Linked DNA regions of Homo sapiens. The protein of the gene in region 6 purifies or fractionates together with the protein of the main gene of each other region. This does not show direct contact. Each region holds a gene or a part of one and is shown on either strand. Other genes may lie near its edges.

Region 1 (3,500 bases), on a different chromosome or scaffold from region 6:
AGTGCAATGGTGTGATCTCAGCTCACCGCAACCTCCGCCTCCCCGGTTCAAGTGATTTTCCTGCCTCAGTCTCCCGAGTAGCTGAGATTACAGGCATGTGCCACCACGCCCAGCTAATTTTGTATTTTTAATAGAGATGGGCTTTCTCTATGTTGGTCAGGCTGGTCTCGAAATCCCACCCTCAGGTGATCTGCCTGCCTCGGCCTCCCAAAGTGCTGGGATTACAGGCATGAGCCACTGCGCCTGGCCTGTCACCACCATTTTATAGAGGGTAGTCTTGTCTAAGGACACAATTCTATTAGTCTATTTCAAAATTTAGAGCCCAAATTGAAAACTCTAAACTCAGTGTTCTTTATCCACAAACCACATCTTTTCCACAAAACTTCTCCTCTTTACCTATTTAAGATTTATAACATTTAGGCAGTAAAGGACACAGGAACTGCTGGCCTAGATGCTGTGGGGTTCCACAAGACAGACCAGTCAAGGGTTTATGTTTTCAAGGAGCTGATACTCATCAGTCTGTGTTTCACGCTATCCCCTAAAGAGGAGATTAGTTGCTTTCACTTGAGTCATCTCTGTTAAAACACATTAAGGGAAGCGTAAGAGACAGGCCTGGCTTGGGGACTGAGGGATTTACAAAGCTAGTAAAAATATTCTCCATCAAGAGGACTCATCATCTTTTGTACGGTAGTTTCAAAATTTACTTCATTAGTTTAAAACTTGTCCAGAATGAATAAAGGAAGAACAAATTCCAGGACATCCATTTTTATGATCAACCAGCTAATCTACCTTTCTCAGATATTGTTATCTTCTTTGAAAAACATATTAAAGAGCAAGTAATCAAATAGATGGAAGGTTTTAGAGAACCACAGTGCACTGGAGAAGGGACCTGAGAGATCAGTGATGTAACTCTTTAAGAAAAAATCAAGAATGCTTTAGAAAGGATAGCCAAGAACGATGAGGTTTCAGGTTGGTTCTACCGATTGGTGAACTAAATTTAACAGGCCAATTTTTTTAGTCAAGTGATGGTTTCAGGGTGTTTCAGCTGAATTTCATTTCCTTCTCAAGTCACCTATGTGGTTCGACCAAATGTACCAATTGTGCTTGGCTCTTACATGTTTGAGATGTGAGAATGTATGCAATTGTATGTGCATGCTTGAGTGTGTCTGTATGTGTATGCATGCATGTGTGTGTGTGTGTGCAGGTATAACAGGTAGGTCAAGTGAGAGAGGGACTAACTACTACCCTTTAGAGAGCTATACTGTGTGTTGGTCACTGCTATCACCATCTTATAGTTCCATGTTCAGACTCAGGGAACAACACATTCATATTATTTGATACCTAAGTGTAGAGGCAGAGGCCAGATCTGAAATTCATATTATCTGACTGTTTATGCTCCTTCAACTCTAACCTGAGGCATCCTGGTTAGTGTAGTGTACATCTGAGGTTTCTTTCCTGAAGGAGAATTACCAGCAGACAGTAGAGAAGAAACTAAATATAGTTTGTCCTTTATGAAAGAAAATAACAACAACGTATTGGGAAGTTAAGTAGCTTATAAGCTCCTTGTTTGTATTTTAATCCTTTCTAAAAATGTATTTACTTATGTCTAGACCTTTTTCATTCAAAAATATTTGAGGCTAATAGAGAAAGAAATTAGCTAATGTCTTATATACACATATGCAAGTATATACGCACACATATACATACACACATACTATATATAGCATATATATCATGTGTATACCCCATGTGTATCTTTTATGTGTATATGTAAAAATGTGTATAAGTACATATGTGTTTGTGTGTGTAAATGTATGCACACATATATTCATAGCTAAATATAGTATAACCTGTTTTATATTACATACACACTGTGGGCATTGGGAGCCAACTTCCTCTTGTGGTTTTGTAATTTGGACTTCCCAGTGGCACAGAAAGGATTTCTGGTCCTTTTTGTAACACTCTCAGAAACAAAAAGATTCCCAAGCTCAGGTGAACCTGTAAGCCATTCCTGTGTGCCACCTTGATCTTGACAATGAAGTTATAAACATCAGGGAAGAAGGGAGTCACTTAGTCCCTGCCTTTCACACCCCAAGATGACTTGCCCAGTGTCACATAGTAAATCTGTTCCTAGGACTTTTGGCTCCAGAAGTCCAGTTCTGTAGTCTAGTTGCTGTTACTACTGTCTTCCGAGTAAGTGGTTGTAATGTAAAATAATGACAATATTTTTGGGATTCCATAGAAGAAAAACCCAACAAAATCTACCCAGCAATGACAACTCCCTGGCCACCAACTTCCAGTGTCAGCTGACACACAGGGTATGTGTAGTACAGGGTCAAACTTGCTCATTTGTTCTGTTCAGTAGAAGGGTCCAAATGAATTGCACAGGCCCTGGAGTCAGGATTCCTGTCTCTAGTTTGGACCTTGGTCAAAGTGACTTAACCTCTCTTAGCTTCAGTTTCCTCATCTGTAAAATGGTAATAATTCCACCTGCTTCAAATGATTACTTTGAGACTGAAATGAAACAATGTGTGTCAGGACTGTCCAATATAAATATATTGTGTATAACATATGCATTCAGACATTTTAAAACATATATTCTACATAGCTTAATAGATCTAAAGTGTTATCACTCTAACCTATAATCACTATATAATTTTTCTTTTTTGAGACAGAGTCTTCCTCTGTCGCCCAGGCTGGAGTGCAGTGACATGATCTCAGCTCACTGTGACCTCTGCATTCTGGGTTCAAGTAGTTCTTGTGCCTCAGCTTCCCAAGTAGCTGGGACCACAGGTGTGTGCCACCACAGCTGGCTAATTTTTGTATTATAATTTTAGTAGAGATGGGGTTTCGCCATGTTGGTCAGACTGGTCTCGAACTCCTGACCTCAAGTGATCCACCTGTTTCGGTCTCCCAAAGTGCTTGGATTCCAGGTGTGAGCCACCATACCTGGCCTAATCACTATATAAAATTAATGAAATATTTTGCATTTTTTTCTACCCAGTCTTCAAAATCCAAGTGCATATATATTTCCTGTGTAGCACATCTCAAGGACACATATGGCTGGTGGCAATTGAGTTAGAGAGCACAGAGATAGATAGCACTGGGCATGTTTGCAATTCTTAATCTGAGAGGTCTTTAAGTGTGGAACACACTCTCCTGAAAGCAAGATTCTCTACGCACTCACAGATTAGGAGCTTCCTGAACAGGAGAAGAACCAGGAAGGCAGGTTTGAACCTGCAGGCAGCACAAAGGCAAATTCGATCTTCTCCCTCAAGAAACAAACCAGGTAAAAGTAAACAAATGGGACCTTTTGACAGTTGAAGCACTTGGCTGATGTGGGCATGGATACAGAATTCTCTATAGCACCTGGAGCTGAGGCCACATCCTTGGCAAAAGCAATGATTGCAGCTCCCATCTGCAGCAATTGCTACTGAGCAGGCACTAGACTGGCAACTTTCCACACAGGGCTTGCTGTAATCCTCACTGCAAGTCCTCAA
Region 2 (3,500 bases), on a different chromosome or scaffold from region 6:
TAGTTAACATTTGCTCCATTTGCTTTGTCACTCACGTTTGGGACTTCACCACAGTCACCATCTCATCACCCTTACACATTTCAGTGTGATACTCTTGCATAAGTACAGCGATAAAATCGGGAGATTTATCAGGTCACACTGTTTTTCCTTGCTCAGCTAATATCTTTCTTTTTTTTTTTTTGAGACAGAGTCTCGCTCTGTCACCCAGGCTGGAGTGCAGTGGTGCAATCTCGGCTCACTGCAAGCTCCGCCTCCTGGATTCACGCCATTCTTGTGCCTCAGCCTCCCAAGTAGCTGGGACTACAGGCGCCCGCCACCATGCCCAGCTAATTTTTTGTATTTTTAGTAGAGACGGAATTTCACTGTATTAGCCAGGATGGTCTTGATCTCTAACCTCGTGATCCGCCCACCTCGGCCTCCCAAAGTGCTGGGATTACAGGTGTGAGCCACCGCGCCTGGCCTTTTTTTTTTTTTTTTTTGGTGAGACAGAATCTTGCTCTGTCTCCCAGGCTGCACTACAGTGGCGCGATCTCGGCTCACTGCAACCTCCGCCTCCTGGGTTCAAGCAATTCTCCTGCCTCAGCCTCCCAAGTAGCTGGGATTACAGGTGTGTGCCACCACACCTGGCTAATTTTGTATTTTTAGTAGATACTTGATTTTGCCATGTTGGCCAGGCTGGTCTTGAACTCCTGACTTCAAGTGATCCTCCTGTCTCGGCCTTCCAAAGTGCTGGGATTACAGGCCTGAGCCACCAGCCTTGGCCCCCATCTTAAGGTCTTTAATGTAATCCCATCCGCCAGGACCCCTTAGCCCGGAAAGGTCACGCATTCACAGGTTCCGGGGATCAGGATGTGGATATCTTTTAGGGCACCAGTATCCAGCTGCCACAACACCCAGGCTCTTCCCGTCCCTCCTCTGCCCAGAGCCTGCCCCCGGCACCCCAGTGCCCTCAGGCCCGCATTCATGTTCCTCTTGTCTGCTCGGAGCCTGGGTGGACCTTGGCCACACCCGCCCAACCCTGCCCTTCCCGTATGCACCCTGACCTTCTTGCGTCAGCATTTTTAGAAATTGCTGGCGTGCAGCCTTGGGACCTTTGTCCGTTCGCCCCGCTCTCCCGTGACATTCTTTCTCAGGGCTCTTTGCCTGGTCCATGGACCTTCCATCTCCCCTGGAATGTCACCTCCTCAGGGTGTCACCGCCCCGGCTGTCCTGTGTGAAGGAGCCTCTGTGTTATTTGTGTCCTTGGTATTCCTTTGTTCATCCCTTGGTCGCCTGTTCTCTGTCTCTCTAGACTGGGTGCTCCAAGAGGCAGAACTCTTTTGGTTGTTGTTGTTTTTGAGACAGAGTCTCACTCTGTCGCCCAGGCTGGAGTGCAGTGGCGCGATCTCGGCTCACTGCAACCTCTGCCTCCCAGGTTCAAGCGATTCTCCTGCCTCAGCCTCCTGAGTATCTGGGATTACAGGTGCCCGCCACCATACCTGGCTAATTTTGTATCTTTAGTAGAGACAGGGTTTCACCATGTTGGCCAGGCTGGTCTCAAACTCCTGACCTCAGGTGATCCACCCGCCTCAGCCTCCCAAATTGCTGAGATTACAGGCATGAGCCACCCCGCCTGGCCTCCAAGAGTCAGAATTCTGTCATCATTTGATTCCTGCTGTGTCCATAGCGGCCGGCGCTGGGTCAGCCTGGAATAGCGGCTCAACACACGTCCCTGGCACAAATAATGAATTTGAGATTCAGTTTGTACCTGTGTCCTGCACACCTGTCACTCCTCTGGGCTCAGCCAGGGCCGGAGCTGCCTCCACTGCAGCCTAGGTCTCCCAAATTCTAGCTGCCCGTGTGTGTGTGTGTGTGTGTGTGTGTGTGTGTGTGTGTGTGTGTGTGTGTCTTTCTGCCCACTTGACCAAGGGGTGTGTGTGTGTGTGTGTGTGTGTGTGTGTGTGTGTGTGTGTCTTTCTCCCCACCTAACCAAGGGCCACTGGAGGCCAGGGCCAGGCTGATTCATTTTGGGTCCAGCATTGCACAGCGCAGGCCTGGGCCCCTAGAAGCCTCGGGAGACATGCGTGCGGTAAGTGTGTGTTGGCAGCGTGTGCGCTGTCCTTTCCTGCCTGGAAACCCTACCCCTTCCTGACTACTTGGAAACTCCCATATGAGGGAGGCTGCACTTGTTTGCTGAGGCCGCTGTAACCAAGTACCACTGACCAGGTGCTTCAGCAACAGAACTTGACTGTCTCATGGCCTGCAGTCAGAGTCCAAAGTGAAAGTATTGGCAGGGTTGGTTCCTTCTGGGGCTATGAGGGAGGATCTGTACCAGGCCCCTCTCCTTGGCTTGCAGATGGCCGTCTTCTCACTGCATTTTCACACCATCTTTCCTCTCTGTGTGCCTGGCCCAAATTTCTCCTTCCATTATTATTTTTTATTAATTATTATTATTATTATTTTTTTTTTTTTCCAAGACAGAGTTTTGCTCTCGTTGCCCAGGCTGGAGTGCGGTGGCGCGATCTCAGCTCACTGCAACCTCTGCCTCCCAGGTTCAAGCGATTCTCCTGCCTCAGACTCCTAAGTAGCTGGGATTACAAGCACGCGCCACCACGCCTGGATAATTTTGTATTTTTAGTACAGATGGAGTTTTGCCATGTTGGGCAGGCTGGTTTCGAATTCCTGACCTCAGGTGATCCACCCGCCTTGGCCTCCCAAAGTGCTAGGATTACAGGTGTGAGCCACCGCGCCCGGCCTATTATTATTTTGAGACAGGGTTTCACTTCTATCCTCCAGGCTAGAGTGCAGTGGTGCGATCTCGGCTCACTGCATCCTCCCCCTCCCACGCTCAAGTGATTCTCCTGCCTTAGCCTCCTGAGCAGCTGGGACTACAGGCACACACCACTGCACACAGCTAATTTTTATATTTTTTGTAGAGATGGGGTTTCACCATGTTGCCCACGCTGGTCTCGAATGCCTGAGCCCAAGTGATCCTCCCACCTCAGTCTCCCAAAGTGCTGGGATTACAGGCATGAGCCACTGTGCCCAGTCATAAATTTCTGCCTTTTATAAGGTCACCAATCATGTTGGATTAGGGCCCACAGTAATGACCTCATCTTAACCTGATTCCCTCTGTAAAGACCTAGTCTCCAAATCAGGTCACATTCTGAGGTACTGGGGCTTAGGACTTCAACATAGAAACTTAGGAGCGTGCAATTTAACCCCTAAGATTGGTTGATGCTTTATCAAAAATTTTGATGTTTTTCTTTTGTTTGTATGTATGTATTTATTTTATTTATTTATTTTTCAGACGGAGTCTCACTCTGTCACCAGGCTGGTGCAGTGGCGTGATCTCGGCTCACTGCAACCTCCGCCTCCCAGGTTCCAGTGATTCCCCTGCCTCAGCCTCCCAAGTAGCTGGGGCTACAGGTGCGCACCACCATGCCCAGCTAATTTTTTATGTTTTTATTAGAGATGGGGTTTCACCATGTTGGCCAGGATGGTCTCAATCTCTTGATCTT
Region 3 (3,500 bases), on a different chromosome or scaffold from region 6:
GAACCGTTTTAATGTCTCTCAGAAAAAGGTTCAGTGACACTGGCCTTCTTTATTGCCTGCATAAAGCATAAAATGTTACTATCTTCAGAGTATCTTGGCAAGGCTGATTTGGATACTTTAATCTGGTGTTTAACAAGCTAACAGTCTGTGCTTTGAAAGGGCTAGTTCATCTCTAAGGGGATAGTTTATTTCAAAGTGAATATTTCACTGCACTGGGGGACCACCAGCTTGAGCACAGTTTGTGTCACTCAGAAAGCAATGAAATGATTTTGGCATGGAATAAGTGATGGATAAGTGATCAGCCGACATATGAGTCTGAATCCAGAATGGGATTTTCTGCGTGTGGCGAGAACGCATACCCAACGTTTCATTATGCTACTTCAACAGGCACAAACATCAACGAAGCACTCCTACGGGCAATCTTCATTTTGAATGAAGCCAATAACTTGGGACTGTTAGACCCCAACTCCGTCTCGCTGATCATTTTGGTTTCTGATGGAGATCCAACAGTGGGCAAGTGTCACTTCAACCTTCTCACGACAAACACTTTCACTGTTGTTTCTTGGAATGGTGGTTTGCCTAAAAGGGGAACTCTAATGGCATTTGCCTGAGTTTCTAGAACATTTTAAACCCATGCTTCCTAAAGGAGGTCTTCTGATCCTGCAGCCCTCACCCCTTAAGCTACTGCTCAGACACTTTCAGCAAGGGCGCTCTTGAATGCCTCAGTTCCACCTCCACAATATGCAGAAATCTGAGTCTGAATTTTAATAGTATGTTGTGAGGATTGCTGATGCATTCTAGGGAAATGCATCTATTTCCTCAACTTGAGGTATGTGAAGATGGTGTATGGGGGTGGTGAATGATGAGTATTGATCCCAGATCTCCCAGCAGTACCTTTGGAGGCCACAGTAGCATATTCCCTATTATTCTCCACACTTCTCCCGGTTGCACCTGGAGAAATGACTGCTCTCTGACACAACCTTGAAGTTAAACATTTTTCTTTCTACAAAATGGGCAGCAACATCTCCCTACTTCTATTATTTATTTTTATTTTTGTTACATTAGTTTATTTTATTTATTTTTGAAGACAGGGTCTTGCTCTGTCACCCAGGAGGGAGTGCAGTGGAGCACACACAGCTCACTGCAGCCTCAACCTCCCATGCTCAAGTGATCCTCCTACCTCAGCCTCCTGAGTAGCTGGGACTACAGGTGTGCACCACCACACTCAGCTAATTTCTTTTTTTTCTTTCTTTTTTTTTTTGGAGAGACGAAGTCTCACTATGTTGCTCAGGCTGATCTCAAAATCCTGGGCTCAAGCAGTCCTCCCACCTCGGACTCCCAAAATGTTGAGATTACAGGTGTGAGCCACTGTGCCAAGCTATCTTTGTTTTACTTGTGTCTTTATTCTGGCCACTGTAAGTAATAGCGAATGCCAGATTGTGTTGCCTGAGTGTGCTGTCGTACAGACTAGGACCGAGTCTAACACGTCCTGACACAGCCAAGCAGAATGAAAATGCACGAGGCAAAAACAATGGCAGTCAGAGCTTTAGAAAGCCAGAGAGCAACCATCTTATTAATAACGAGACTAGAATGAGCCAGTGTTATGTATTTGTTGTAGAGCCAATGTTTTCTCCCTCAGATCAGATTATTTTCAAAATTCAAGTTTTGAATGAAATCATAAGGTGGAAAAGGAAATATAGTTTAAAATATTAAACTTGCCAGGCATGGTGGCTCACACCTGTAATCCCAGCACTTTGGGAGGCTGAGGTGGGTGGATCACCTGAGGTCAGGAATTCAAGACCAGCCTGGCCAACATGGTGAAACCCCATCTCTACTAAAAATACAAAATTAGCCTGACAGGGCGGCGTGTGCCTGTAATCCCAGCTATTCGGGAGGCTGAGACAGGAGAATCCCTTGAACCCAGGAGGCGGAGGTTGCAGTGAGCTGAGATCGTGCCACTGCACTCCAGCCTGGGCAACAAAGTGAGACTCTGTCTCAAAAAAAAAAACAAAATTAAACCATAATTTGGTTTAATCATGGTTTCTCACTCCTGTTTCTCAACCATTCAGTTCCTGTCCCTGGAATCAGTCACTGGTTACCAGTTTCTTGTGTATCTTTCCACAAATAGTTTATGCATGCCTGTATACTATATATACATGTTTGCACACATGTATGTGTATATGCATACATACACATACATACATTTATACATGCATGCATGCAAATGCATCCTAGGTACCCTGATATTTACCTTGTTTTTTTTTTCTCCTCTAAACATGCCCTTGAGATTGTCTGGTATACATACATAAGGAGTTTCCATGTCCTTTTTAATAGCTGCATAGTATCTCACGGTTTAAATGTATCATCATCTAACCAAGCGCCCTCATTGGTGCATATTTATGTTGTTTCCAATATGTTGCTAATTCCCAAATAATGTTGCTATGCAACACAACCCACACTTCATTTCAACATGTACGAGTGCATCTCTAAGAAAAACTAGAAATTGAGTTACTGGGTCAAAAGGGAAATGCAGTTTTAATCTGGACACACTTTACTAAACTGCCCTCCCTGGATTTTCCAGAAAATTTATGATATTGCTTCTTCATTCCTTTCCTTTCGGACATCACCAACTTTAGGCGAACTAAAACTGTCAAAAATTCAGAAAAACGTTAAGGAGAACATCCAAGACAATATCTCCTTGTTCAGTTTGGGCATGGGATTTGATGTGGACTATGATTTTTTGAAGAGACTGTCCAATGAAAACCATGGAATTGCACAAAGGATTTATGGAAACCAGGACACGTCTTCCCAGCTTAAGGTAACATTTTCTTCTGTTCTTTTTTTATTCTTCACTGGAAATCATTTAACTACCCATATCTGATGCAGGTATGATGCATAACTGAACTTAACTCAAAATGGTCATGATCTCAGCCATATTTGGTTGCAAGGATCAGGGAAGTGCCCAGTTCCTTTCTCACATGTTTCCCCCCACCCTCATATTTCTGCAGTAACAGTGAGGTATGAGGCAGATGGGTGTTGGGAACAGCTGTCCTACCCCCTGAACAAAAAGGCCTTCTGAGCGTCATCAAAGCTCCTTGTAGCTCTCCTGCCCCACCAGCAATTGGTCTTCTTATCATCATGGCCAACCGTTTTCTCTTTAACGTGCATTGGCATCTTGGTATCAATTTTTCACAGTGTAAATTTTCTTAAGTATTAAGATACAGGCTGAGTGTGGTGGCTCATGCCTGTAATCCCAGCTCTTTGGAGGCCAAGGTGGGAGGATCACTCGAGCCCAGAGGTTTAAGGCCAGCTTGGGCAACATAGTGAGATCCATCTGTTCAACAGATAATTTTTTTAATTAAAATACATATATTGAAAAGACACAAACTACTTGTTTGTTTTGATTAAATAGATGAGAAAATGATGTAGGGAAAGAACATGTTTTTCCCTGCTCTTTGTCAGTACCAGGCATCGTATTTAAATTTGGGAACAAGTAAGAG
Region 4 (4,132 bases), about 34 Mb from region 6:
CAGCTGCCAGAGTGAAAATAAAAATCAGATTCAGTCACAACTTAAACTCTTCAGCGTCCCCCATGCTTTCAGGGACATGAGGACCCAGCTCCTGTTGTCTGCCAGGGAGTCACCCAGTTTGATGCCAGCTCAGTGCCAGCTCAGATGCCAGCTCCTCTGGACCCAGGCGCAACCCCTGCAACAGGGCAGGTTCTGGGCCTCTCCCCCACTTCAGGAGCCACACCTCCCTTTCTCCCACCCACCCTGTGCAAACCCTCACATTCCCTTTGACCCTGGTGTGAGCGGCCAAGCTCTTACCTCAGCTGGGTGGAGAATCGCTCCCTCTGCTCTGGTGTCTGTCCCTGGGCTCTATTTCACAGTCGAGTTGCGTGTGTGTGTTGGCTACAGGCAGCCCTGTGTCCTTCTTTGGGTGTGGGGAGGGCGTGCATGACAGTCACACCCAGAGGCTTTCCTCTCTGATCTGCAAACAGATGCCGTTGGCAACCACAGGTCATTCAGCGACAAGAATGGCCTCACCAGCAAGCGGGAGCTGCGGCCCGAAGATGACATGAAACCAGGTGAGAGGACTCCTATCCCGGGCCCCGGGGCACCTCACTTCCACCAGCTCCCAGGTGCATGCAGGGGACAGCTGTGGGTGTCGGGGCTGTCCACAGCTGCAGCCCAAGCCTGGCCATGACTTGACTAAGACGATGTGGCCTCGCCACACCTGTCAGCAGCTGCAAACAGAACGTGCAAACCCGAGACAGCAAGGGGTCCTTCTAGGCTGGGAGGCTGCCCAGGCACCAGGGCCTCCAGAAGAGCGGGACTGGGCACGATGGCTCCTGCCTGTAATCCCAGCACTCTGGGAGGCTGATGCGGGTGGATCACCTGAGGTCTGGAGTTCAAGACCAGCCTGGCCAACATGGCAAAACCCTGTCTCTACCAAAAATATAAAAATTAGCCAGGCGTGGTGGTGGGTGCCTGTCATCCCAGCTACTTGGGAGGCAGAGGCTCGAGAATCACTTGAACCTGGGAGGCGGAGGTTGCAGTGAGCCAAGATCATGACACTGCATTCCAGCCTAGGCAACAGAGTGAGACTCCATCTCAATTAAAAAGAAGAAGAAGAAGAAAAGCGAGGCCTCGAACTGGATATCTCCCCAACTCCCTCACATTGAACAAGGGCCTTGGAAAGCACAGCAGGGCCTCAGGCTGCTGGGATCAGATCATTGACCTTGCAGCGCCCAGCTCCTCTGTAGGGAGGGGGATGACCTGAGACACTGAAGCACCCTCTGCACAAGTCGTGAATGTTGATCTTTTCTCTTCTAGGAAGCTTTGACAGGTCCATACCTGAAAACAATATCATGCGCACAATCATTGAGTTTCTGTCTTTCTTGCATCTCAAAGGTATGTGAAATATCATCAACTTAACATTCATCTCTTAGTACACTGGAAACGTAAAAGGCCCATCGAGAAGAGAACCCATAGAATCCCCCTGGGAAGTAGCCGATTACTTATCTACGTACAAAGTCCTGTTTGGCTGTGTGTCGGGATAACAGAGAATGTAACACTAGAGCTAGCTCCAGAGGGCTGGGATTGCGGCAGGGGCATTCTACCGTCGTGGAGGGCCATCGGGCCAGCGCTGGTCCCAGGAAGAGAGTGGGCCTCAGGGTGCAGCTCATTCTACTGGAACCATATCTATTCACACGGTGACAACTGCTGTACCTTTTAGGGCAGAGGTATACTACAGGCCAAGTTCTTTGTGAACCGTCCTAAACCTTTTCTCTTTTCTTTTTTCTCTGTCTTTTCTTTCTCTTCTCTCTTTTCTTTCTTTCTTCTTTCTCTTCCTTCCTTCCTTTTTCTTCCTCCCTCTTTCTCTCTCTCTTTCTTCCTTCCTTCCTTCATCTCACTCTGTCGCCCAGGCTCGAATGTAGTGGTGCAATCTCAGCTCACTGCAGCCTCTGCCTCCTGGGCTCAAGTGATTCTCGTGCCTCTTCTTCCCAGGTAGCTGGGAAAACAGGTGCGCACAATTATGCCTGGCTAATTTTTGTATTTTTAGTAGAGGCTGGGGTTCATCATGTTGGCCAGGCTCATCTTGAACTCCTGGCCTCAAGTGACCTGTCTGCCTCAGTCTCCCAAAGTGCTGGGATTACAGGCGTGAGCCACTGTGCCTGGCCCTAAACCATATTTTCTAAGCATGGGAAATTAATAGAAGCCCATATCTTAGACTGCAGTGTTTCTCTATGCAGCCTTCCTGCCAGGCAGGCTGCCTTGAAATCTAACTGGAAAGGCTCTGATCCTGGCTTCCAGTGTCTTCTGCAAACACTGGGGATGAGGAGACCTCCGCACACTACGCTTGGCATTCATTCTACGATGGGCATCTGGCCTTGATCAGATAACCACACAGGTCCTACTGCAGCAGTGGAGGGAGCCGGAAAGCGGCCCCGGTGCTCTGAGGGTTAACAGGGAGGTGGTGGTGGGGAGGAGGGATGGACCGCTTTGCCTCTCCAGCAGAGAAGACCTTCACCTGGTGCTCTGAGAGTTAAGGGGGAGGCAGTGGTGGGGAGGAGGGATAGACCGCTTTGCCTCTCCAGCAGAGAAGACCTTCACCTGGTGCTCTGAGAGTTAAGGGGGAGGTGGTGGAGGGGAGGAGGGATGGACCACTTAGCCTCTCCAGTGGAGAAGACCTTCACCTGCTGCTCTGAGAGTTAACAGGGAGCTGGTGGTGGGGAGGAGGGATGGACCGTTAGCCTCTCCAGTGGAGACCTTCAGTTGCACATCACAGTTTTGTCCAGTTTTGAAAAATCAAGGCTAATCCTTGGGTTCATTTTGGATCAGGATGTTTTTCATTTGCAGTGTTATCGGGCTGCACTTTAGGTGGCGATGGGGAGAGGGAAGAGGAGTGAGGGGAGGGGAGCGGGGGAAGGAGACTGCCAGAGAAGGTCTTGGAAAAGGCGGTGTTCATTAGAAATCTCAAAACCGAGTCACCAAGTTCCCTCTGTTGGAGCCCAGTGGAGCCTCTGGGAGAAAAGCTGGGGTGACTTTTCCTACAAGGGGCAGAGGGACTCTGCTAGATTTTTGTTTTTCATTTGTTTTTAATTTTGTAACATGGAAACTCTTTCCTTAGGATATACCAGCTCTCATTACTCAGCTAGGAATTATACCTCTTTAAAGCCTGAATTTAAAAGTCTGACAGTTTTAAATGCTTACTAACTGTGGGAGTTAAATCATTACGAAGTGAGGAATACAGAGTGTTGTCCCTGATTCTGGGTTTAATCTGGTAAGAATCTTTACAGAGGACGACCACACGCCGCTTCCTGTAGCATGTGTCGTGGTTGTAATTCTCTCATGTGCATATTAAGAAGTTGCTGCTCAGATGTGGCTCTTCCCTTTGCAGAGGCCGGTGCCCTCGACCGCCTCCTGGATCTCCCCGCCGCAGCCTCCTCAGAAGACATCGAGCGGTCCTGAGAGCCTCCTGGGCATGTTTGTCTGTGTGCTGTAACCTGAAGTCAAACCTTAAGATAATGGATAATCTTCGGCCAATTTATGCAGAGTCAGCCATTCCTGTTCTCTTTGCCTTGATGTTGTGTTGTTATCATTTAAGATTTTTTTTTTTTGGTAATTATTTTGAGTGGCAAAATAAAGAATAGCAATTACTTGCAATTGTCTTTTTCTTCCACACCTCTGTCTCATCACCAGCGCCACCCATGGGTTTTAAAAGATAAAGCTTGATCATAATCGTGGATTAGACATGAATTTTAAACCCAAATTCTACCGTCAAGAGCATCTGAGACACCACCTGTTATTGCATGTCCAGGGGACATAAATTTATCTCCATATTAAGCTGAGTCAAATGTAATTATGAAGGTAAGTCTGTTACTGAGATGAACAAAAACACAAAACAGACAAAACCCCTGCCCTCGTGGAGCTGATATTTTAGGGAGATGGGAATGAAAAAGACTACAACAACCTTAAACAGATGGGTGAGTTGCGTGGTACTCATGGAGGTGGTCAGTGCTGAGAACAGACGTGTTGGCCAGGTGGGAGGGCCAGGAGCAAGGCAGGAGAGGAGAGATGGGCGGGCAGGTAGAAAGGCAAGGGCAGGAGGTGTGTGCAGGGATGGTGCTGTGTGAAGGAAGGCCTGTGGGAATATCTC
Region 5 (2,635 bases), on a different chromosome or scaffold from region 6:
AGGTCAGGAGTTCAAGACCAGCACGTCCAACATGGTGAAACCCTGTCTCTACAAAAATACAAAAATTAGCTGGGCATCATGGTGGGTGCCTGTAATCCCAGCTACTCAGGAGGCTGAGGCGGGAGAATCGCTTGAACCTGGGAAGTGGAGGTTGCAGTAACCCGAGATCGCGCCATTGCACTCCAGCCTGGACAACAAAGAGAGACTGCATCTCAAAAAAAAAAAAAAAAAAAAGCAAGAAGCAAGGTGGGGCTCAGGTGGAGGGGCCCCTCCTCCCGGGGCATGACCCAGAAGAAGGGGACCAGGGGTTCTTAATCAATCTGCGGAAGCCTTTGGCTAAGGGAGGGAGGGGGTGCCGGGAGATCCAGGTTTGAAATGAATGCTGAGTGCCCGGCGCTTCCCCTGGTCGGCGAGGGAGGGGCCCCTGACATTTGCCAGGGCGTGGGCGCGCCTGTCTGCGCCCTGAGCTAGACGGCAAAGTACACAAGCAGACGAAGGGGTCGCATGCGGGGGCGCAGGAGTCAGGCGGATTTTATTGACCGGACGGCAGGCGGGGTCTATGAGCGGCTCCTGGAAGCGCGCGGCCACTCCTCCTGGGTCAGGCGCGGAGGCGCCACGGGCGGGCGGGGGACGCTGTCAGAACGGTCCGGGGGCCAGGCAGGGCAGGCCAAGGCGGTTTGCTGCGGGGTCCACCGCTGGGCGGGAGACGTCTCTCCGAAGTCTCTAACGAGAACACAGCAAGGCCGTGGGGAGGAGGCTGTGGCCCTCCAACCACCGCCCCCGGGTGCCAGGGTCGAGCCTGCCCAGGGAAAGCTCTTCTGGGCGCGGAGCAGGGAATGGAAGGGCCCGAGGGTGCCCCCTGAACGCGCGGCTCCGTGCTCCGGCTCAGACCTCCCGAGACCCCCTTGCCCGCGGCGGTCCAGGCCTCTCCCCTCTCACGTACCTGGCCAGCTCCGCTGAAGTCCAGGGACTCCGGTTCCAGCGCAGGCTCTGGGGCGCGCGGGCTCCGGGGCGCACGGACGGGGATCCCTGCCTGGGAGCTCCTGCGTCGCGTCTCCCACAGCTCCTGAACCCACGAGGGCAGCAGGAGAGGAGCCTCGCGGGCTGCGGGTTCGGGGGAGAGGGTGTCCCTGGCCAGGGGCCCGGCGGCCGCGCGCAGCGCGCGGCGCCACAGATAGGGTGAGCGACGCAGCCCCATGAGCAGGCCAGCGGCGCGGCCCACCGTGTGGTAGCGGGGACTCGCCACGTGCTTGTACCACGCGCCGGAGGGCAGCGGCAGCAGGAGCAGAAGCAGCAGCAGTGCCAGCCGCGGCCGGCTCGCGGGAGCCCCCCGCTCCCCTGGGCGCCACGCCAGGGCGCTCGCGTCGACGGCCGCCCGGCGGGGCGGGCCACGAACCGGCTCGGCTGGGTTTGGGCGCGCAGTGGAGTTGGGACGCCCAGGTACCGGAGCGCAGGAGGCTGGAGGCGAGCCGTGGGTCCCCTGCAGGCCCAGCTATAACCGCTCGGTGGCCCCGCCTCGTTCCGCCCCCTCAGTACCGCTGGGCTCCCCAGATGGGGGGAGGGACGGAGGGAGGAGAGGGAACCCTGGCAGCTGGCGGGGGACGTGGGTACTTGAGCACCTCACTGAGTGGGCCGCTGGCTGGAACTGGGCTCGAGGCTCCTCTGAGGGGACACGTCCCATTCTCTGCCTGCTCAGCCTCCTCCCTCTAGGAGTGGAAGTGCCAGGGAGTGGGTACTGGGAACACTGATGAGGGAGTAGGGCTGAGGGATGCCCCTTTAGCCAGACTCCTGCCGGTGGGACGACAGCAGAGCGAAGGCCCAGGTGCAGGCAGAGCTACAGTGGCTATTGCAGGAGGGCTGTCGGGGGCCTTCAGCACCATTCAAGACCCCTCTGGGTGAGTCCCCCCAAGAGTTGTCCCTTGTCCTTGCCTAGCATAGCTCCCAAAGCTGTCCCCACACCCTGTCCTGTCCACTGCCACCCCCAGCTTCTCCCCACCAACCCATCTCCCCGCAGAAGCCTTAGAAGCCTCATGTTGGCAACACCAAGCCATCCGTGGGGTCTGCAGTTCTGTGAGGCTTCCAGGAGAAAAAGTCAGCCCCTCCTGGAACCTCTACCCCTGGAGGGGCAGGACAAGGCCTTGCAGACCTCCAGCGCCTCCTCTCTGGTGATGGTCCCCCAAGACCACTTTATCCAGCCAGTCTCAATTTTTGCCTAAACCAACAGCCTGTGGCTTTGCCTGCCTCTGTGCGTCTGTGCCTAACACCTACTCATCCTTCAAGACTCCACTTAAATGGCCCAGATCCTTGGCCGGGCGCGGTGGCTCACACCTGTAATCCCAGCACTTTGGGAGGCCGAGGCGGGCGGATCACCTAAGGTCATGAATTCAAGACCAGCCTGGCCAACGTGGTGAAACCCCATCTCTACGAAAAACACAAAAAATTAGCTGGGTATGGTGGCAGGCACCTGTAATCCCAGCTACTTGAGAAGCTAAGGCAGGAGAATCGCTTGAACCCGGGAGGCGGAGGTTGCAGCGAGCCAAGATTGCATCATTGCACTCCAGCCTGGGCAACAAGAGCGAAACTGCATCTTTTTTTTTTTTTTTGAGACGGATTCTGGCTCTGTTGCCCAGGCTGG
Region 6 (3,500 bases):
GAAAAAATAAAAATGAGAAATTAAAGAATTAAAATTGAACAAAATGAAAATACTGCATATCGAAATTTGCTGGATGAAACAGAAGAAATGGTTATTTATAGGTATAAATGCTTGTATTAGAAAAGAAAAAAGTTACAAGTTAATAAGGTAAGTATCAAACTTAAGCTATAACAATAATAACAGGATCAATTCAAAGTAAACAAAAATTAAGGCAACAATAAAGATATGAACAGAAACTAATTAAACGGGAAATCAAAATATAATATAGAGAGTAAATAAAGCCAAAAGTCAGTCCTTTGAAAAGATCAGTAAAATTATTACATATATTATGAGATTGATGAAGAAAAAAGAGAAAGGCAAAAGGATTCAGTATTAAGAATGAAAAAGAAAACAAAACTTCAGCAATAATTCAAATTACAACAAAATAATTTTCCAAAAACTTTTTCTGATGGATTTGAAAACAGACAAAATTGGCAAATTTTTAGAAAAACATGTTAACAAAACTGACTCAAGAAGTAATAGAAACTCTAATAGCATATTACCAATAAAACAAATTGAAACAGTAGTTTAAAAGTCTGATAAAGAAGCCTCTATACCTGAATATCTCCATTAGTTAATTTATCTCTCCCTGCACTGATACTACATCTTACCGATTAAAGTTTTATAACACAGGGCTTTTCTCCTCATCTAATAAGATGGGTTCACCAGGAGCATCCTGGCTATTCTTGGCCTTTCCTCTGCCATATAAATTGTAAAACTAATTTGTCAAGTTCCATGAAAAATCTTTTGGCATTTGGTATTTGAAATGAAAATGTCTTGTATCTATAGATAAATTGACATTTTTACTATCTTGCATTTTTTATGAATATGGAATGCCACCTATTTTCTTAAGAGGTCTCTAAAATAAAGTTTATAATGTTCTTTGTACAAATTTTATTTAAGTGTTAGCACAAGGTCTTTCAGTAATCTAAACTTTAATATAATGGATAAAACTCATGTCAATAAAATTTTTGCAATAGGATTTATTCCAGCAAGTTGAAATTCTTATATAGTACTCACCTTTAAAAATAAAAACGGTGTCCCTGCTGTTAACTTCATATGCAGCATCCAAATATGATGGAAGAGAGGGCCAAAATGCAGAAATCAAATGAAATTCAGGTTCAGGGTTCCAGTGGGATCTTCGCCAAAAATATCTGTAATACATAAAATTACTTGCAATTGTCTTTCTCTTTTAGATATGTGAAAAAAAAATTCTTTTTTTTTAAATCCATGCTAATTCACCCATTCATAGAAGTCTGTATTAAACCATCCTCCTGCATGTGATTCCAGGGTAATGAAATCGATGGCAGGACTTGTGACTGGTTCCAGTAAAATTATTTAGCTTGGTTCCATTCTAAAAGTCCATAAACAGTGTGCATATTATGTCCTAATATTTTAAAAAATATTATGTGTATATTGATGCTTGTATATGAGTAGAACATTTTTGTAAAGAGTCAAAGGAAATTGGTAGCAGTGGTTGCACATATGAAGGGAGCTGGAGGACGGTAGGCCAAAGACTGGAGAGAGATTTTTTAACTCCGTATCTTTTGGTAGTGTTTAAATATTGTGCCACAAGCACATATCACTTTTTTCCAAAAGTAATTAATTTAAATAGTAGCATATATTAGTAAATGGAAAGATACCACCCTGCTTCTAAGGATCCACCAGTGCTTTCTGAAGAAGTTCCATGATATATGATATTTTAAAAAAATGAACGAAACAGATATAACTCCCTGCCTTAATCAAACTTACAGTCTAGGGACCAAGAATCATCCCTTATAAGTCTGTAAAAAATGATCTGGACAATTCTAAGAAGATGTTAAAAATTCAGCAAGAACTAGATCTGAATGATTTTAAAATGTAGAGGAAATTTTATATTTTAAAAAATCTCTGTCAAGCAGAAAAAGTAACTACTGGGTACTAGGATTAGTACTGGGGTGACAAAATTATCTGTACAACAAACCCCTGTGACACGAGTTTATCTATATAACAAACCTGCACATGTACCCCTGAACCTAAAATTAAAAAAAAAGCTCTGTCAAGTTTCTGTTTTTCTTTCTAAGCACTGTACATCAAAAGAATAGATAGGAAAATATAATTTTCTGGTCTGACCTGTCTTTAAAGAACAGATATTCTCCCCTCAGAGTGCTGATGGCATCGAAGGACAAAGCAGGATCACACTTGGCTGGCATCTCAGATCCCGAAGGAACAGATTTTGTGGGCACCAGGGGTTCCTCAGTAGAGGCAGGGGGAGGTCCTAAAGGAAACAGATTTGGGGATGCAAACATTAAAAAAAAATGTGATGCATCTGTCAATTTGTGTGCCTTTCAAACATTCTCAAAGTGCTTCAGGCCAAATCAGAAATACTTTAGGTAGCACTGGAAAGCTTTCTGGAGGACTGTCATTGTAGATCTGCAATGCCTAATTTTTCCAGCATCACTCACCGTAGAGAGACTGAATGCCATTCACATCATCTTGCGAAAGGCGGAACTGGGCGAGCTCTGTGAATGAGTTGTAGAGTGGGTACATCAAAGCTTCAGTGTTGGCTGAGTGAAAGAGCCCCAGGGAGTGGCCAAGTTCATGAGCAGCAACGAGGAATAAATTGGTGCCTGTATGAAAATCATAAATGTTCAGAATTCACCAGCTCTTTCTTCCATAAATACACATACAGAACATATGCCAGCTGTACAGGCCATCCTTGAAACCACAATGTCTTTTCAGTATTTGTGGATTGGTTCATTGATTGGCACATTCCATACTTTATAGAAATTAATGTGTTTTTCAAGGTTGACTTTAAGTCAATATATAAGACAGTTTTTCACCGTATCCCTCCCTAGATCCCTCCTTGGTCAGGAAAACTAAGACACTTTTCCTATATTGACAAATGAGAAGCATTATTTTCAAAAGATTTTTTTTTGAAAGGACAAGACTAATAGCATGTCAGTAAATATAACTCTTCGTTGTCTAAAAATAAAAAGTCATTGTTCAAATTTAGGAACACTTGCCAGTTGCAACCTTGGTTAAAATTAATCATATAACATTTACGTTCAAACTTTTAAGCCAGAAGACTGTGGTTATTTCTTGTGGGGTTTAGTCTGATTTTCTCTTCCTCCTCTTCATCATACTCAAGTAATTTTTTTTTTTGAGACAGAGTCTCATTCTGTCGCCCAGGCTGGAGTATGTGTCCAAGCGATTCTCGTGCCTCAGCCTCCTGAGTAGCTGTGATTACAGGCACGTGCTACCATGCCCGGCTAATTTTTGTATTTTTGTTGAGATAAGGTTTCACCATGTTGGCTAGGCTGGTCTCAAACTCCTGGTCTCAAGTGATTCACCCAACTTGGCCTCCCAAAATGCTGGGATTACAGGCATTAGCCACTGGTGCCTGGCCATAATCAAATAATTTTTGATTGTCAAAAATCTTCCCAGTAATAGGTGCCATTGGATGTGTACAATCTTTAGTT

Evidence for each region.
Region 1: the proteins of MMP10 (region 6) and HS3ST1 purify together in Homo sapiens (affinity purification with mass spectrometry; one large-scale study listed by BioGRID and IntAct). This does not show direct contact.
Region 2: the proteins of MMP10 (region 6) and NUCB1 purify together in Homo sapiens (affinity purification with mass spectrometry; one large-scale study listed by BioGRID and IntAct). This does not show direct contact.
Region 3: the proteins of MMP10 (region 6) and ITIH2 purify together in Homo sapiens (affinity purification with mass spectrometry; one large-scale study listed by BioGRID and IntAct). This does not show direct contact.
Region 4: the proteins of MMP10 (region 6) and GAL purify together in Homo sapiens (affinity purification with mass spectrometry; 2 studies listed by BioGRID and IntAct, with this or other methods). This does not show direct contact.
Region 5: the proteins of MMP10 (region 6) and NPW purify together in Homo sapiens (affinity purification with mass spectrometry; one large-scale study listed by BioGRID and IntAct). This does not show direct contact.

The regions. Positions count from the first base shown.
Region 1 is NC_000004.12:11,401,395-11,404,894, forward strand, and holds part of HS3ST1 (heparan sulfate glucosamine 3-O-sulfotransferase 1 precursor), read right to left. Parts: intron 1-3,500. UniProt on the Homo sapiens protein: Sulfotransferase that utilizes 3'-phospho-5'-adenylyl sulfate (PAPS) to catalyze the transfer of a sulfo group to position 3 of glucosamine residues in heparan. Catalyzes the rate limiting step in the biosynthesis of heparan sulfate (HSact).
Region 2 is NC_000019.10:48,906,812-48,910,311, forward strand, and holds part of NUCB1 (nucleobindin-1 precursor), read left to right. Parts: intron 1-3,500. UniProt on the Homo sapiens protein: Major calcium-binding protein of the Golgi which may have a role in calcium homeostasis. Acts as a non-receptor guanine nucleotide exchange factor which binds to and activates alpha subunits of guanine nucleotide-binding proteins (G proteins).
Region 3 is NC_000010.11:7,727,316-7,730,815, forward strand, and holds part of ITIH2 (inter-alpha-trypsin inhibitor heavy chain H2 precursor), read left to right. Parts: intron 1-387; coding exon 388-513; intron 514-2,636; coding exon 2,637-2,818; intron 2,819-3,500. UniProt on the Homo sapiens protein: May act as a carrier of hyaluronan in serum or as a binding protein between hyaluronan and other matrix protein, including those on cell surfaces in tissues to regulate the localization, synthesis and degradation of hyaluronan which are essential to cells undergoing biological processes.
Region 4 is NC_000011.10:68,687,544-68,691,675, forward strand, and holds the end of GAL (galanin peptides preproprotein), read left to right. Parts: intron 1-297; exon of another isoform or gene 298-460; intron 461-470; coding exon 471-557; intron 558-1,248; exon of another isoform or gene 1,249-1,305; coding exon 1,306-1,383; intron 1,384-3,373; coding exon 3,374-3,444; 3' UTR 3,445-3,632; downstream 3,633-4,132. UniProt on the Homo sapiens protein: Endocrine hormone of the central and peripheral nervous systems that binds and activates the G protein-coupled receptors GALR1, GALR2, and GALR3.
Region 5 is NC_000016.10:2,018,621-2,021,255, reverse strand, and holds NPW (neuropeptide W preproprotein), read right to left. Parts: upstream 1,472-2,635; 5' UTR 1,355-1,471; coding exon 944-1,354; intron 724-943; coding exon 637-723; 3' UTR 501-636; downstream 1-500. UniProt on the Homo sapiens protein: Plays a regulatory role in the organization of neuroendocrine signals accessing the anterior pituitary gland. Stimulates water drinking and food intake. May play a role in the hypothalamic response to stress.
Region 6 is NC_000011.10:102,774,129-102,777,628, forward strand, and holds part of MMP10 (stromelysin-2 preproprotein), read right to left. Parts: intron 2,649-3,500; coding exon 2,484-2,648; intron 2,297-2,483; coding exon 2,152-2,296; intron 1,194-2,151; coding exon 1,060-1,193; intron 1-1,059. UniProt on the Homo sapiens protein: Can degrade fibronectin, gelatins of type I, III, IV, and V; weakly collagens III, IV, and V. Activates procollagenase.